2 separate regions of the Homo sapiens genome follow, and region 1 is linked to region 2. The links come from fine-mapping of genetic effects on gene expression. A gene starts in region 2. The other region holds a variant in brackets. All regions are shown on one strand. Distances are from middle to middle.

Region 1 (5,000 bases), 42 kb after region 2:
GACTACCCCTGCAAGGGCCAGGCCCTGTGAGTGACCCCAAGGAAACAGGAAGAGGCTTGAAGCATGAAGATCACACTTCAGCTCTCCTCTAACCCGCCCTGACTCAGGTGGGAAGCGGGGGCAGTACAGGTGGCTGTCACCTTCCACGGAGATGTCCTGGATGGCGAACCTAAGGATGATGGTCCAGATCATTCCCAGGGTCATCTTTGCGTTGCCGTCCACAATCTCTGCACACAGGGAAGGGGGCAGAGGGCAGAAGGTCGTTAAAACCAGAGTGAGGCTCCTCCGCCCAACCTGAAGGTGGCCTTCCAGCCCCATCTAGAGAAAGGCTCCAAACCACCCCCTGGTTGCATCTCCCAGGCCTGTCCTCCTCCACCTCCCTCAGGAGAAAATGCAGGGAACAGTCTCTAGGCAGCACTGTCCCAGAGCCTCCTGCTGCTGAGCGCCTGCAGGCTTCTGGCCACAAGGGTCCCTGGCCCCGCAGCCAGCTCCTTCTCCTGACCCAACTCAAAAAACCGCTCCTCCAAGAGGCTGGTCCCAGGCGTGTGGCCTCTGTTCACACCTCTCTCAACTCTCAGTGCTCTGTACATTTCTGCCGTAATCTGCGTACCTCCTGACTACAGGGGGGCACCCCGGGCCCCCACTCTCAGGGCAAAGGTGGTCTTTTTCATCTCGCAGTCAGCAAATGTGCACTACATTATTGTTTATTGTGAATCTGTCCACTTCCTTCCAATCCTACTGCCGACACTCTCCACCAAGCCACTGTCATCTCCAGAGCTCAATGCGGCTGCCTCCTATGTACCCTTCCCGCCCATAATCCACATCGACACAGCAGCGAGCATGGTTGGTTTCCTTCTTTTGAGACAGGGTCTGGCTGGCTGGAGTGCAATGGTGTAGTCATAGCTCACTGCAGCCTTGACTGCCTGGGCTCAAGCAATCCTTCTGCCTCAGTCTCCCGAGTAGCTGGGACCACAGACGCATGCCACAACATCTTGCTAGTTTTTAAACTTTTTGTAGAGGCTGGGTCTTATTATGTTACCCAAGCTGGTCTCAAACTCCTGCTCAAGTGATCTTCCTGCCTTGGCCTCCCAAAGTGCTGGGATTGCAGGTGTGAGCCACCATGCCTGGCCCACAGGGAAAGGGCTTGCCCTGAAGGCCCAGGCCCTGCCATCCTGCTGGAATTCTCTAGCTGCATCCTCTGGGCAAGCCAGGCTCTTTCTTGCTTTGATACGCTCTGTCCACTCACAAAGCACGCCCCTAGCCTGCGACCCTCAACTGGCTGGTCCTTCTCATCGTGTAAGCTTCTGCTTGTGTCACCTCTCGTGGTGGCTTCCCTGACTGCCCGTCCCAAGGAGCTCCCCAACCCGCCACCCAGTTCCTCTCCCTGGCCCCTGTGCTGCCCCAAGGCATCACTAGTGAAATCACATGTTGGTCGGGCTGTTTACTTGTTCACTGTCTGCCTGCCCTCGTGAGGGCGGGGCTGCTCTGACCACCACTGGATCCAGTGCCTGGAAGGCCAGTGAGGAACAAGCATGGCTGCTGTGTTGTCAGGAAGGGGAGAGCACGGGCCTGAGGCCAGACTGCACGCTTTCTGAACTAACCTAAAAACAAACATTTGCGGCCGGCTGTGGTGGCTCACGCCTGTTTAGTCCCAGCAATTTGGGAGGCTGAGGCAGGTGTGGATCGCCTGAGGTCAGGAGTTCGAGACCAGCCCGGCCAAGATGGTGAAGCCCCGTCTCTACTAAAAACACAAAATTAGCCTGGCGTGGTGGCGGGTGCTTGTAATCCCAGCTACTCTGGAGGCTGAGGCAGGAGAATTGCTTGAGCCCGGGAGGCAGAGGTTGCAGTGAGCTGAGATTGCACCATTGCACTCCAGCCTAGGTGACAAGAGTGAGATTCCATCTCAAAAAAAAAAAAAAAAAAATTGCTGAAACTTCTCAAAAGAAGGGCTTGGACCACACCTTCTTCAGCCTCAGTAACTTAAGAGAAAAATCATCTCTGCAAGGCCCAGGACAGCTGTGTGTCTGCGGCTGGGTGAGAGAAGGCAGTGCCTCATCCCAGAGTCCATCAGCCAGCCGTGCCTAGGGCAGTCCTCCCAACTTGTCAACAC[G/A]CCATATGCAAGGGGCATGATGGAGTGGCTTCCAAAGAAGACAGAGGGGCGCCACTGCTGCAAGCACTCTCGGGGAAGGGCTGGGCACAGGGGTGAGTTCCAAAGCTAACTGCAGAGCTGGAGGCCCAGGACACCACAGGAGACCCTGCTCACTGACCTCTGAGCAGAATACTCCAGGGCAGGCTTGCTTGGAAGCAGGTGGAGAGGTCACAGAGAAGATGGGGCTCACCTTCCCCCGGGGACACACCCAGAGGAAGGGGGTGTCCATGAGCCACAGCTTTCGGGTTTTGAGAGGAGGAAATATGCTCATTCTGCTGCCCAGAGACAGGGGAGGGACCCAGTGTCCACCCTGTCCTAGGGTTCAGAGCCCCAGACCCAGAAACTGAGCAGCACCACCTGCCCCTTAGTGCAGCGAGGCAGCTCGAGCCTCAGGAAATCTATTCTGTGCACCTCCTGAGGGCCGGGCCTGCAGAGCTGGGCAAGGCCGCAGCTCCCCGGCTCAGCAAGTACAGGTGCAGCTGGTAACGGAGGGCTTATGGAGTTCCGGTGAGGAGAGGAGGATGGCGTTTCTCATGACACATCCACCAGCTGCTTCTCTGACCTGCAGCTGTGCCTCCGGCCCCTCTCATCACCCCCACGGGAAGCCAATGCTCCCGCGAATGCCCAATCATGTGGAAGGACAGGGGGACAGGGTGGGGCGGGGTTCTCAGGTGCCTTGAGCCCCAGGAACGCCTCCATTAGGCTTTGTTCCAAGGCCCCACAGTCACAGGGATTGGGAGTGAACCAATTTGGGCATGAACAGAGAACATTTTTAGACCAAGTTTTTCTCCAAATGAAAACTGATGACTGACATGGGTCTCTCCTCTAACCCCTTCTGTATTTACAGACTAGCATTTGAGCAAAATAAATGCAGCTGTGAGAAGCAGAAGGCTGGAACAGAGCCTGGAGGAAAGACCCATGCAAGGACAGAAAATCTCAGGGCCTGACTGAATTTTTGGGTTGTGATTTTTTTAAACAAACACCAACCACCTCGACTGTGGCATGCAAGGCTTGGCACCCCTCATCGCAGAGGTCCTGGGCCGGGGCAGAGCCTTGGAACTCAGCACACACATTCTGGCCCGGAGTCTTGGCCAAACTCTCAGAGCCCTGTCATTAACGGCAATTAGTTTACTTTGTTTTTCTAGAAGCTGGGACAACATGGATGTCAGGGTGAAGAAATCTTACTCTGACTAATGAGTGGACTGCGAGCTCATGCTGCTGGGGCTCCATCAGGCCTCGCCTGTCTCTAAAAGCGCCTGGGAGCTCAACCCAGGGGCCCCTGCTGAGAGCCTGCTGCTCTAGTGAGGGCCTGCAGGTAGTGGACTGTGGTCCTGGTTATCTACGTGGGGCCCAGGAGGATCCTGGGGTGGTCAGAGGCAAAATTCTCCAAGCCCATGCACACAGGGCAAAGTCTAGGCACTGACCTTTGGCCGTGCACTCCCTGTCCCAATGCCTGACATGGGGCCTCCAGTCCTTCTCTGATACCGGGCAGGGCATAATGAGAAAGGTGTTCCTGGTACAGAGAGAGGCCATGGCACATGTTTGTCACTGTCTGCTGAGCCTGGCACAAGGAGAACCAGTGAGGGCGACCTGAGTCCGAGTCAAAACCATTCCTCCCCCTGCAGAAGCCGTCGCCCCCGTGGTTGGGTGGGTTGCACTTCCTAGATTTGGACTGCGCCCACCGGATTTTTCCAAGGGTTTGGGGGAGCTTGTGGGCCCAGCATCATATCAAGAGCAGTTGTTGTGATCACTGCTGAGTATGTACTGGGGCTCTGAGTGCCCCAAGCGCCCTGCCACCAACAAAACTTCTCTTCAGGATGCAGATGTTGTGCTTCAGAGCCTAAAGGTCAGAAACCGAGCAGGACCCTCGCTGCCCCACCTCCAGCTCACCTTCTGCCCCGATGGAGACCAGCTTGACGCCTTTGCTGGCAATAAAGTCCAGCGCTTTGTTCACATTGTTGATTTTGTGCACTCTCATCTTCCCCCGCTCCGGCTTAGGTAACCGCTCCCCTGAGAAGTGCACAAAGAGAAAAGAGGGGGCGAGACAGAGAGAGAGAAAGGGAGAGAGGGCGAGAGGGAGAGAGGCTTTAGAGTCTCCTCTGTTCTCCAAAAGCAGGTTCCTCTGCTGGCCCACCAGGCCACTCTGGCCCCACCCATCAGACCACCGTGCAGCTATTAAGGGGTGCCCTCTCCTCCCCAGGAGCAATGGGACAGCTGGGTGGGCAGGGTCTCTGGGGACCGCTGTGGCAGAGCACCTGTGCCAGGGCTCGGCCGCACTGCGTGGCTGGGAGTCTCACCTGATATGACCTCCAGGAGCAGCATGAGCTTGAGCCCGTCTCGGAAGTCCTCATCAATGTTCTCGATCTGTGTGCCTGCCTTCCGCAGGTGGGAGTTGCACCATGCCGTGAAGGTCTGGGGAAGCAGAACAAAGGACAGTGCGCAGAGTCAGCCTGGCTGTCGGGGCTCTCTCCACACACCTGCAGGGCCGCAGCTCTGACCTCAGGAGAACCGCAGCTGCCACGGAGCACTCGCCGACACACACCGTACATGGCCGATACACACATTGTTTCTGATCCTTACAGTGACCCCGGGAGGCAGATGTGAGGAAACTGAGGCTCGGGGTGGTTAATGACCCATCACAAGACCATCCAGGCGGTAAGTGGCAGAGCTTGGATTTGAACCCAGGTCTGTCAATTTTGGCAACATGTGCTTTTTCCACACCCCCAAGCTGCCTCAAGGGAGACCAGTACGCACACCAGACAAAAGCGCCTCAGCCCGCCGCCGGCTCACTCAGTCACACAAACATGACTGAGCACCAGGCTCGGTGGTGTGGAATGAACAGGTCGGGCTC
Region 2 (5,506 bases):
CCAGCTAATTTTTTTTTTTTTTTTTTTTTTTGAGACAGAGTCTTGCTCTGTCAACCAGGCTGGAGTGCAGTGGCGGCTCACTGCAAGCTTCGCCTCCTGGGTCCACGTCATTCTCCTGCCTCAGCCTCCCGAGTAGCTGGGACTACAGGTGGCCGCCACCATGCCTGGCTAATTTTTTGTATTTTTTGTAGTAGAGATGGGGTTTCACCGTGTTAGCCAGGATGGTCTTGATCTCCTGACCTCGTGATCTGCCTGCTTTGGCCTCCCAAAGTGCTGCTGGGATTACAGGCTTGAGCCACCGTGCCCGGCCTTTTTTTTTTTTTTTTTGAGATGGAGTTTTGCTCTCTTGCCGAGGCTGGAGTGCAGTGGTGCAGTCTTGGCTCACTGAAACCTCCACCTCTCGGGTTCAAGCGATTCTCCTACCTCAGCCTCCTGAGTAGCTGGGATTACAGGTGCGTGCCACCACACCCAGCTAATTTTTTTGTATTTTTTAGTAGAGATGGGGTTTCACCATGTTGGCCAGGCTGGTCTGGAACTCCTGACCCGCCCGTCTCGGCCTCCCAAAGTGCTGGGATTACAGGCGTAGTAAACTACCGCGTCCAGCCTAATTTTTGTATTTTTAATAGAGATGGTGTTTCACCATGTTGGCCAGGCTGGTCTTGAACTCCTGGCCTCAAGTGTTCTGCCCACCTCAGCCTCCCAAAGTGCTGGGATTACGGGCATGAGCCACCATGCCCGGCCCTGTTTTGGGGGGTTTTTTGAGATGCAGTCTTGCCCTGTTGCCCAGGCTGGAGTGCAGTGGCACAATCTCGGCTCACTGCAACCTCCGCCTCCCAGATTCAAGCGGTTCTCCTGCCTCAGCCTTCTGAGTAGCTGGGATTACAGGTGCCCGCAACTATGTCCGGCTAATTTTTGTATTTTAGTAGAGACGGAGTTTCACTACATTGGCCTGGCTGGTCTCGAACTCCTGACCTCAGGTGATCTGCCTGCCTCGGCCTCCCAAAGTGCTGGGATTACAGGCATGAGCCACCACGCCCAGCCAGAAAGCCTGTTTTGTAACCCACTTTTGGTAGCCGTGTACGTGGGTGGCTTGGACAATATTTGTGGGTCCACTTGGAGGGAAGAAGGCCAAAAGGCTTGAGGGACATCTGAGTGGCGTGGAGGTGACAAGGCTCTGGGAGGGCAGCAGACACCCTCAACGAGGGTGGAAGGTCTGCTGGGACCAGCACTGCTGAGGCTCTGGCATCTCCGTACCTGTTTCTCCCATTTCCTCCAATGGCTCCAGAGTCCTTTGGGGGAAATACTGCTCCATCCAGACTCTGAGTGGCGTGGGCCAGGGCAGGGCATCATGGTCACCAGATGGCTCCCAGCACAGGAGAGGTACAGAGCCATCCCTCCAGGGTCAGCCTCCCTGGGCAAGCAGGCTGAGTCTACCTTGTCCGGGAGGGGAGGAGGCGCATCCTGAGGGCTTAGGGGGCGTGAGCGGAGGGGAGCTCAGGGTCCCTCGGTGGATGATGGAGGAGCCACATATGGGTTACAGGGACAGACAGAAAGATGGAGAGGAAGAGACAGGGAGGCAGACACAAGGTACACTGACAGGGTCTGAAGGAGGAGGGGCTGGGGGCCTGGACTCCTGGGTCTGACAGGTACAGAGAGGAACAGACACACGCTGAAAGAGACACAAAGAGAGAGGGGACAGGCATAGTGATTCACGCCTGTAATCCCAACACTTTGGGAGGCCAAGCGGGGAGGATCACTTGAGCCCAGGAGTTCGAGACCAGTCTGGGCAACAAAGTGAGATCCCCGCCCCATCTCTACAAAAAAAAAAAAAAAAAAAAAAAGAGGGTGGGGTGGGGAGAGGGGTGGAGTTGGGGAAATACAGAGACACAAATATTGCCAGAAACAAAAAACAAGAAAGGGCCAGGCACAGTAGCTCACATCTGTAATCCCAGCTCTCTGGGAGGCTGCTGAAGCAGGAGGATCACTTGAGGCCAGCAGTTCAAGACCAGCCTGGGGAACATATGGGACCGCCCCCCGCCACCCCTCTGTCTCTACTTTAAAAAAAATTTTTTTTAATTAACAAAACCTGACCAGGCACAGTGGCTCACGTCTGTAATCCCAGCACTTTGGGAGGCCAAGGTGGGCGGATTGCTTGAGGCCAGGAGTTCAAGACCAGCCTGGTCAACATGGTAAAATCCCTTCTCTAACAAAAAATACAAAAATTAGCTGGGCATGGTGACACGAGCCTGTAATCCCAGCTACTTGGGAGGCTGAGGCAGGAGAATCACTTGAACCTAGAAGGCGGAGGTTGCAGTGAGCTGAGATCGTGCCACTGCACTCCAGAAACTGATGGAGAAGAAACATGAAGGCGGGGAGAGAGAAACTGTCAGAGGGAGGGGGAGAGAGGCAGTCTGAGAGATAGAGACACCGAGGTAAACCCGCCTCCTTCCCCAGCCCCACAGGCATAAGTAGGCAGAAGCTCACCCCCACACTGACCTCCTTCTTGGTGCTCTGACAGCGGCAGCCGGTCCTCCCTCAGCTCTGCCCGCCTTCTCTCCTGCTGCTGGCCAAGCCCATTAAGCTGCTACCTTGGCCACAACTGAAGGCCCCACGCCCTGGGAAGAAAGCTACTGAAGAGGCGTCCCTGCTCCCCAGCACCCCAAACCATCAATTAATATTAACGAGGGAAGGCTCCTCATTGCCTAAAGACCCCACTGGGGCTCCAATGGAAGAGAGGCCCCGCCCCCGTGACTCAGGAGGTTAAAGGGCCTGGTGCCGGCTTGTGAGGCCAGTGTCCAGATGGCATCCAGCAGTGGGAGGGTCACCATCCAGCTCGTGGATGAGGAGGCTGGGGTCGGAGCCGGGCGCCTGCAGCTTTTTCGGGGCCAGAGCTATGAGGCAATTCGGGCAGCCTGCCTGGATTCGGGGATCCTGTTCCGCGACCCTTACTTCCCTGCTGGCCCTGATGCCCTTGGCTATGACCAGCTGGGGCCGGACTCGGAGAAGGCCAAAGGCGTGAAATGGATGAGGCCCCATGTAAAGTGTGGCTGGGGTCTGGGCTCTGGGGTCTGAGGGAGGAGGGGCTGGAGGCATGGACTCCTGGGTCTGAGGAAGGAAGGCTGGGGGCCTGGACTCCCTGGTCTGAGGGAGGAGGGGCTCGAGACCTGGACTCTTAGGTCTGAGGGAGGAGGGGCTGGGCCTGGACTCCTGGGTCTGAGGGAGGAAGGGCTGGGCCTGGACTCTTGGGTCTGAGGGAGGAGGGGCTGGGGACCTGGACTCCTGGGTCTGAGGGAGGAGGGGGCTTGGACCTGGACTTCTGGATCTGAGGGAGGAGAGGCCAAGGCCTGGACACCTGGGTCTGAGGGAAGAGGGGGCTGGGGACCTGGACTCCGGGGTCTGAGGGAGGAGGGGCTGGACCTGGACTCCTGGGTCTGAGGGAGGAGGGGCTGGGGACCTGGATTCTTGGGTCTGAGGGAGGAGGGGCTCGGGACCTGGACTCCTGGGTCTGAGGGAGGAGGGGCTGGGCCTGGACTCCTGGGTCTGAGGGAGGAGGGGCTCGGGACCTGGACTCCTGGGTCTGAGGGAGGAGGGGCTGGGCCTGGACTCCTGGGTCTGAGGGAGGAGGGGCTCGGGACATGGACTCCTGGGTCTGAGGGAGGAGGGGCTGGGCCTGGACTCCCGGGTCTGAGGGAGGAGGGGGCTACCATGGGACTGGCTCAGCACAACTTCTGGAGACCCAGGGAAGCCATGCTCCTGCCCACAGGCTTCCAGGCCTTTCATGGGCTTGGAGGCCCTCACTCCTCTGGATGAGACCTTTCCTCGCTTTCTCAGGCTGAGGCCTGGAATCCCCCACCACCCACAGGAGTTCTGTGCTGAGCCGAAGTTCATCTGTGAAGACATGAGCCGCACAGACGTGTGTCAGGGGAGCCTGGGTGAGACCCTGAACCCACCTGGAGTCCTCAGATCCAGCTAGTTTCAGCTGAGATCCTGACAGCTCCATCCCTTTGTCCACCCACTCCCGGCCCCTGGATCCCTCCTCAGTCTCTTCTCTCCCTAGGCCTCTCTCTCCCTCCTCCCTCCTTCCTTCCTTCCTTTTTTTTTTTTTTTTTTTTTTGAGATGGGGTCTCACTCTGTCACCCATTCTGGAATACAGTGGCACCATCATAGCTCACTGCAGCCTTAACCTCCTGGACTCAAGCAATCTTCCTGCCTCAGCCTCCCAAGTAGCTGGGACTACAGGTGCATGCCACCATGCCCAGCTAATTTTTAAATTTTCTTGTAGTGGAGTCTTGCCATGTTGGCCAGGCTGGTCTTGAACTCCTAGGCTCACGTGATCTTTCTGCCTTGGCCTCCCAAAGTGCTGGGATTAGAGGCATGAGCCACCGCACCAGGCCTCCCTCCTTCCATCCTCACCTAATCCTGGCCTCTCCTCCCAGGTAACTGCTGGTTCCTTGCAGCTGCCGCCTCCCTTACTCTGTATCCCCGGCTCCTGCGCCGGGTGGTCCCTCCTGGACAGGATTTCCAGCATGGCTACGCAGGCGTCTTCCACTTCCAGGTACAGCTCAGTTCCTCTGCCCATGCCTCCGTTTCCCCCATGGTGACTTGGTGATATGGATTTTTCTTTTTTTTTTTTTTTGAGATGGAATCTCACTCTGTCATCCAGGCTGGAGTGCAGTGGCACAATCTCGGCTCACTGCAACCTTCGCCCCGCCCCCAGGTTCAAGCAATTCTCTGCCTCAGCCTCCTGAGTAGCTGGGATTACAGGCACCCGCCATCATGCCCAGCTAATTTTTTCTTATTTTTAGTAGAGATGGTATTTCACCATCTTAGCCAGGCTGGTCTCGAATTCCTGACCTCGTGATCCATCCGCCTCGGCCTCCCAAAGTGCTGGGATTACAGATGTGAGCCACCGCACCCGGCCAGCCATATGGATTTCATAGTTAACGTTGACTTGGGGCTGTAATTCCTGACTCTGGGACTGGCACAGCAGAGGCAGGGCCCAGGCAGGGTTGGAGGTTGGAAGCCGAGTCCGGCCCTGCATCTTCTCCCACCAGCTCTGGCAGTTTGGCCGCTGGATGGACGTCGTGGTGGATGACAGGCTGCCCGTGCGTGAGGGGAAGCTGATGTTCGTGCGCTCGGAACAGCGGAATGAGTTCTGGGCCCCACTCCTGGAGAAGGCCTACGCCAAGTGAGGACCCCAGTTCCAACCAGCTGCAGCCCTAAGTCCCCACAGCAGGCATCAAGCCACAGGGGGACCCAGAGTCCCCCAAGCTCTGCAATCCTCCAAACACCCCACCAAGAATCCCAAACCAAGTGACAACCGCCAGAACCCTCATATCACAACATCACCTGAGCAACTTCATGTTTTTTTTTTTTTTCTTTTTTTTTGAGACGGAGTCTCACTCACTCTGTCGCCCAGGCTGGAGTGCAGTAGCGCGATCTTGGCTCACTGCAACCTCTGCCTCCCAGGTTCCAGCGATTCTCCTGTCTCAGCCTCCCGACTAGC

The links.
Region 1: its variant is fine-mapped to the expression of CAPN12 in whole blood (TOPMed, PIP 0.96).

What each region holds. Positions count from the first base shown.
Region 1 is chr19:38,700,161-38,705,160 of GRCh38, reverse strand. ACTN4 (actinin alpha 4) reads right to left here. Exons shown (of 21, transcript NM_004924.6): 2 at 4,447-4,561; 3 at 4,040-4,159; 4 at 141-227. It overlaps LOC107985291 (a long non-coding RNA gene), which reads left to right. Exons shown (of 2, transcript XR_001753937.2): 2 at 2,997-3,237. Among named protein-coding and RNA genes, the nearest start is that of CAPN12, 42 kb to the left of the region's middle. RefSeq lists enhancers at 1-546, 2,156-2,656. The variant G/A (reference allele first, on the strand shown) is at 2,111.
Region 2 is chr19:38,741,459-38,746,964 of GRCh38, reverse strand. CAPN12 (calpain 12) reads left to right here and starts at 2,491. Exons shown (of 21, transcript NM_144691.4): 1 at 2,491-3,036; 2 at 3,863-3,932; 3 at 4,437-4,555; 4 at 5,055-5,188. The coding sequence starts at 2,800.